Linked DNA regions of Homo sapiens. The protein of the gene in region 1 interacts with the protein of each later gene in a pairwise test. Each region holds a gene or a part of one and is shown in the gene's direction. Other genes may lie near its edges.

What was found.
Region 2: the proteins of NAP1L2 (region 1) and FAM81A interact in binary tests that used the Homo sapiens proteins (3 or more experiments, as listed by UniProt).

Annotation. Positions count from the first base shown.
Region 1 is NC_000023.11:73,213,332-73,217,084, reverse strand, and holds the start of NAP1L2 (nucleosome assembly protein 1-like 2), read left to right. Parts: upstream 1-2,233; 5' UTR 2,234-2,592; coding exon 2,593-3,753. UniProt on the Homo sapiens protein: Acidic protein which may be involved in interactions with other proteins or DNA.
Region 2 is NC_000015.10:59,518,167-59,521,919, forward strand, and holds part of FAM81A (protein FAM81A), read left to right. Parts: intron 1-3,087; coding exon 3,088-3,212; 3' UTR 3,213-3,753.

The DNA of each region.
Region 1 (3,753 bases):
TTCGGTGACTTTGTTGCAAATGAGTTGGCTGTAAATGTGTGGGTTTATTTCTGGGTTCTCTATTCTGTTCCATTGGTTTTTTGCGTCTGTATTTATGACAGTACCATGCAGCTTTGTAGTACATTTTGTCATCAGGCAGTGTGATGCCTCCAGCTTTGTCCTTTTTGCTCAGGATCATTTTGGCTATTTGGGATCTTTTGTAGTTTCATAAAAGTTTTAGGATATTGTTTTCTGTTTCTGTGAAGAATGTCATTGGTATTTTGATAGAGATTGCATTGAATATGTAGATTTCTTTGGGTAGTATAAACATTTTAACAATATTGATTCTTCTAATCCATAAGCATAGGATATCTTTCCATTTTGGGGTTCTCTTCATCTCTTTCATTAGTGTTTTTATAGTTTTTATTGCGTAGATCTTTCACTTCTTTGGTTAAATTTATTCCTAGATGTATTATTTTCTTGTAGCTATTGTAAATGGGATTGTTTTCTTGATTTTTTCAAATTGTCTGCTGCTGGTGTACAGAAATGCTACTAATTTATGTGTGTTGATTTTGCTTCATGCAAACTTACTTAATTTGTTAGTTCTAACAGTTTTTTTGTGGAGTCTTTAGGTTTTTCTAAATATAAGATCATGTCTTCTTTGAACAAGGATATAAATTAGCAACTTCCTTTCCAATATGTATGTCCTTTATTTTTTTCTCTTGCAAAATTGCTCTGGGTAGGACTTCCAGTACTATATTGAATATGGTCTTTAAAATATTTTTCTCTACACTTTATATTATGATAAAATATACATAACATAATATTTACCATTTTACCTATTTTTAAATCTACATTTCAGGAGCATTAAGTACAATCACACTGCTGTGAACCATCATCACCATACATCTCCAGAATATTTTCTTTTTCTTGAACTGAAACTCCATACACATTGAACAATAACTTCCTTTCCTCCCTACCCCAAGCCTCTGAAAACCATGTTTCTACTTTCTGTCTCTGTGAATTTGACTGCTCTAGATACCTAATTAAAGTAGAATCATACAATATTTGTTCTTTTGTATCTGGTATTTTCACTTAAAGGAAAAATTTATCTATAAACTGACAGAATTTAGAAATAAATACAACAATATGTAAACAGTTTTAATATCTGTGATAGTAACAAATTCTTTAAATCTGGAAAATAATAGTCACTTAAAATTTTAAAAAATTGTTCAATTAATAAATGATCCAAGTTAGAAATATGAACAAAATAAACCTCACCAATAATTACTATAGAGAGGAAATTTTAATTACTGCAAAGCTTTCCATCCTATAAATACATTATCAAATAGTTTAACCATTTCTTTAATGCTGAGATTTAGATTATTTCCAATTAACTCAAAAGCATCAAGCAAATGTTATGATTTCTAAGAATAAACATAACTTTCCATTTTGGCTTTTGTATATATGTATATTTCTAACGGCTGTTAAAGCCAGCATTAAGAAGGAGAAGCAGAAAGTCAGTATTGGGACTGGGGTTATTTATAAGCCAGGCAACTGGTTAATTGTGGTTAATTGTCTGGTATGTTTACTAGTCACGTAGTTGTATACACCATACTAGTTTTTCATCACAGGCCCTCATTCGCCCCCACTGCCATCGGACTTCCTCCTCCTCCCCTCACAGGAAATGTTTCGAGAATTTTTCAACCTAAAATCATATAGCTTGTGAAAAATACCGACAAACATAATATAGAATATTTAAATAACTGACACGCCACCTAAAGACCATCAGTGCTAATTCCTGGTGTTTTTAATCTTTGAAGCGTTTGTTTATCAGCTCTTCCACCATCCACCTCTCCCCTCCCCAGGTCCCCGATCTAAAATCAAAGAGATTGATTTAGGATGGGTGGGTGCCTTGTCTTCTCTCATTGTTCGACATTTTAGTTACGTTTTCTCTGAGCTCTCTGGAAAGCATAAAAGTATAATATCTGTTAAAAGTTGGATGAATGAACTAATGAACGCAATGGGATTCCAGAAAACTCTGCGGGAGATGGGCTAGAGGACGAGGAGGAGGTGGATGAATCAGCCATGTTAGAGAGCCTGGGAAGGTGAGCAGAGTTGAAAACTTGATAGATCTAATAATTTACTGGCTCTGGGTTTGTCAGTCACTACATTGCAGCAAATGAGATTAGAGCATAGTTGTGGGAGGGAAGGAGGTGACGCAGCAATCTATTTGCACCTAGAAATTTTAGGCAAGTGATAGCTGCGTAATCATACTGCGGCACCGTTTTTTTCTTGCAGCAGTAGCTGCTTGCGGAGGAGGTCTGCCCACTGCAGCTCTCTGCAGTCTCCGGCTCTCTCCTGCAGGATCGGTCAACGCAGCCGTCGCCGCCCTCTGCACCCAGCCCAGGTCGCCACTGCTTCAGTCCGGTTCTCAAAGCCTCAGCACCATCTTTTATCCCCGAGCAGCCTGGATCGTCGTTCCCTCAGTCCGGACGCCACTGCTAGGTCCGACCACCGCCGCTTCTGATATTTCGGTGAGTCTTTTCCTGTGGAGGTTTGGTCTCCCGATCTCTGTGGTAGCCACCTTAGGCGTGTACGGTCCTTTGAAAAATGGCCGAGTCAGAGAACCGCAAGGAGCTGTCAGAATCCAGTCAAGAAGAGGCTGGTAATCAGATAATGGTGGAAGGGCTCGGGGAACATCTGGAGCGCGGTGAAGATGCCGCTGCTGGGCTTGGAGACGATGGGAAGTGCGGTGAAGAAGCTGCCGCTGGGCTTGGGGAAGAAGGGGAAAACGGTGAAGATACTGCTGCTGGGTCCGGGGAAGATGGGAAAAAAGGTGGCGATACTGATGAGGACTCAGAGGCAGACCGTCCAAAAGGACTTATCGGTTATGTTTTAGATACAGACTTTGTTGAAAGTCTACCTGTGAAAGTTAAGTACCGTGTGTTAGCCCTTAAAAAGCTTCAAACTAGAGCGGCCAATTTAGAATCCAAATTCCTGAGGGAATTTCATGACATTGAAAGAAAGTTTGCTGAAATGTACCAACCCTTACTGGAAAAAAGACGTCAGATCATCAATGCAATCTATGAACCTACAGAAGAGGAATGTGAATATAAATCAGACTCTGAGGACTGTGATGATGAGGAAATGTGTCATGAAGAGATGTATGGTAATGAGGAGGGTATGGTACATGAATATGTGGATGAGGACGATGGTTATGAGGACTATTATTATGATTATGCTGTGGAAGAGGAGGAGGAGGAGGAGGAGGAGGACGACATTGAGGCTACTGGAGAAGAGAATAAAGAAGAGGAGGATCCTAAGGGAATTCCTGATTTTTGGCTAACTGTTTTAAAAAACGTTGATACACTCACTCCTTTGATTAAGAAATATGATGAGCCTATTCTGAAGCTCCTGACAGATATTAAAGTTAAGCTTTCAGATCCTGGCGAGCCCCTCAGTTTCACACTAGAATTTCACTTCAAACCCAATGAATATTTCAAAAATGAGTTGTTGACAAAGACCTATGTGCTGAAGTCAAAGCTAGCATATTATGATCCCCATCCCTATAGGGGAACTGCGATTGAGTATTCCACAGGCTGTGAGATAGATTGGAATGAAGGAAAGAATGTCACTTTGAAAACCATCAAGAAGAAACAGAAACATCGGATCTGGGGAACAATCCGAACTGTAACTGAAGATTTTCCCAAGGATTCATTTTTCAATTTTTTCTCTCCTCATGGAATCACCTCAAATGGAAGGGATGGAAAT
Region 2 (3,753 bases), on another chromosome or scaffold:
AAGGTTTCACCATGTTGGCCAGGCTAGTCTTGAACCCCCAACCTCAAATGATCCTCCCGCCTCGGCCTGCTGAAGTGCTGGGATTACAGGCAAGAGCCACCAGGCCTAGCCTCATGATGCCTTTTTACCCCTTTATTATTTCCATTTTTTTGGAAATTAAAAAAAATGACAGAATGAGACAGAGGCTCACTCTGTTGCCTAGGCCGGGGTGAAGTGGTGTGATCGTAGCTCACTACAGCCTCCTGGGCTCAGGTGAGCCCCCTGCCTCGACCTCCTGAGCAGCTAGGACTATGGGCATGTGCCACCATGCCCAGCTCATTTTTTTATTTAAAAAATTTTTTTAGAGATGGGTCCTCAGTATGTTGCCCAGACTGGTCTGGAACTCCTGGCCTCAAGCAGTCCTCTTGCCTTGACCTGCCAAAGCTCTGGAATTACAGGTGTGAGCCGCTGCCTGGTTGCCCTTTTATTATTTCAGTGTATATATCCTAAGAACAAGGATATTCTCTTATAAATAACTTTAATACAATGTATCATCAATGAAATATTTTTTAATATTCAATTTTCAACGTGCCATTATTTCCTTTATAGCAACCCTTTTCCAGTCTAGTGTCTTTTTTTTTCTAATTACATGTTTTTTAAATAAAAAAAATTGTTGTGTATATTTAAGGTATACAACAAGATGTTTATATTTTGATATATATATACATAGTGAAATAGTTACTGTATTCAAGCAGGTTAACATATGTATCATCTCACAGGTATTTGTGTGTGTGTGTCTGTGTGTGTGTGTGTGTGTGTGTGTGTGTGTGTGGCAAGAACACCTGAAAATGTACTCTTTTAGCAAAAATCCCAAATACAATACAATATTATTGACTGCAGTCCTCATGCTATACATTAGACATCTGGTCTTGTTCATTCTCCATATCAGCAATTTGTATCTTTTGACCTGCATCTCCCCATTTCCTCCTCTTCCGCCCCACCTTTGGCAACCACCATTTTATTCTCTATGTTTTTGACTTTCTTTCTTTTCTTTTTTTTTTTAGACAGAGTCTTGCTCTGTCGCCCAGGCTGGAGTGCAGTGGTGCAGTCTCGGCTGACTGCGACCTATTCTTCGCAAGTTCAAGTGATTCTCATACCTCAGCCCCGCGGGTAGCTGGGATTGTAGATGTGCACCACCAGGCCCAGCTAATTTTTGTATTTTTAGTAGAGATGGAGTTTCATGGTGTTGGCCAGGCTGGTCTCAAACTACTGACCTCAAGTAATCCACCCGCCTCGGCCTGCCTTCCTCCCTCCCTCCCTCCCTCCTTTCCTTCCTTCCTTCCTTCCTCCCTCCTTCTCTCTTTCTCTCTTTCTTTCCTTTCTTTCTCTTTCTTTTCTTTCTTCCTTTCTTTCCTTTCCCTTCCCTTCCCTTCCCTTCCTTTCCCTTCCCCTCCCCTCCCCTTCCCTTCTTCCTTCCTTTTCTTTTTTTAGATTCCACATATGAGATCGTGCAGTATTTTTCTTTCTGTATCTGTCTTATTTCACTTAGCATAATGTCCTCCATTTTTATCCATTTGTGACAAATGGCAGGCTCTCCTTTTTTGTAAAGCTGAATAATATTCATCATTTGTATATATACACAATTTCTTTATTCACTAATTTTTTGATGGACACACTTCAGTTGTTTCCATATCTTGGCTATTGTAAATAATGGTGCAGTGAACAGGGGAGTGCAGATATCTTTATGAGGCAGTAATTTAATTTCTTTTGGGAATATACCCAGTAGTGAGATTGCTGGGTCGTATGGTAGTTCTATTTTAAATTTCTTTAGTAACCTCTATACCAAGCTTGTCCAACCCACATCCCGCAGGCCACATGCGACCCAGGATGGCTTTGAATGCAGCCTAACCCAAATTCGTAAACTTTCTTAAAACATTATGAGATTTTTTTGTGATTTTTTTTTTTAAATCACTCATCAGCTATCATTAGTGTTAGTGTATTTGTATTGCCCAAGACAATTCTTTCAGTGTGGCCCAAGGAAGCTGAAAGTTTGGATACCCCTGCCCTATACTGTTTTCCACTATGGCTGCCCCATCCTGCATTCCCACCAACAGTGTACAAGTGTTCCCCTTTCTTCACACCCTCGCTAATGCTTGTACTCGTTTGTCTTTTTGATAATAGCCATCCTAACAGGTGTGAGGTGATAACTCATTGTGGTTTTAATTTGTATTTTTCCTATAATTAGTGATGTTGGCCCTTCAGGTTCTAATCCAGAATTACACATCGTATTTAGTTGTCATGTTTCTTTATTTAGTCTCTATTAATCTGGATCAGTTTCTCAGTGATGTTGACCTTTTTAAAGAATACCAGCCAGCCAGCATTTTGTAGACTATCCCTAGTTTAGATTTGTTTGCTTCATTTTTTTTTTTTTTTTTTTGAGACGAGTCTTGCTCTGTCGCCGAGGCTGGAGTGCAGTAGCACAATCTCAGCTCACTGCAACGTCCGCTTCCTGGGTTCAAGCAATTCTCCCTGCCTCAGCCTCCCGAGTAGCTGGGACTACAGGTGTGCGCCACCATACCCAGCTAATTTTTGTATTTTTAGTAGAGACAGGGTTTCGCCGTGTTGGCCAGGCTGGCTCGAACTCCTGACCTCAGGTGATCCATCCGCCTTGGCCTCCCAAAGTGCTGGGATTACTGGCATGAGCCACCGTACCAGGCCTGTTTGCTTCATCTTGATATAATTTAGGTTGTGTATTTTGGTATTCTTTAAAAATGTCAAGAAGTGATGTTGTGCCCTGCTCAGGGTATCTTTTCAGAAGTTACGTGATGTTGTTTCTCCCAGTATGGGTGACGTGAGATTTGATCACTTGGTTAAAGGGGTATATGACAGTCTTCTCCATTGTAATAGTTCCTTTTTCCTTTTTGTAATTAAAAAGTAATCTCTAGGGAGAAACTAGAAACTCACCTGTTCCCCATCATACTTTCATCCCAGAGGTTTTAGCATCTATTAATAATTTTTGCCTGAATCAACCATTACTAGATACTATAGAATTTGATACAGCATTTTAAAAAAATTGTTAACTGTTGTGAAATTTACCTCTCCTTCAAGGGTTTACAGCCGTCTATGAAAGCATAGGATCCCTCAGGCAAGTTCTCGAGGCCAAGATGAAGCTGGACAGGGACCAGCTACAGAAGCAAATCCAGCTGATGCAGAAGCCAGAGACCCCCATGTGAAGGGAGCTGGGACAAGGTCCTAAAAGACAGTTTTGCCAGTGGGGCTAGGAGCCGGATACCTCTGTAGCCAGGCCATCGCTGCATTCAGGATTGTTCCATCCATGGCGTGCATGTGCCAAGAAATGTGTTTTTATGGGTCTAAATGTTTACCTTGAGTCTTGAAAATACTCTTTTGTTAAAAGTATGAAATACAGTTTTTACCAGTTTATTTCACTTCTCTAAATTCAATGGAAATCCCCCGCCCTGGATTTTGAAAGGCTTTTATCTTCTTCATTTTACGAATGGAAAGACGACAATTTTTCTTCAATGCTTGATGCACTAATGAAGACTGTTTACTATTTTGAAAAATGTCATGGGGATTTTTTTTTAATTAAGAAACTAATGAATCATCACAGGAATGTGTTGCTCCTCACCCTAAATTAAGAGAATGTCCCAGTAGATTAGACTTCAACCTTTGAGTCCAATTTGGATTTTATTATCGTTGTCTATGCACTTCTTATATTGGTTATCTTCTTGTAAATCTTCTGTCTTTTGTAAGGGG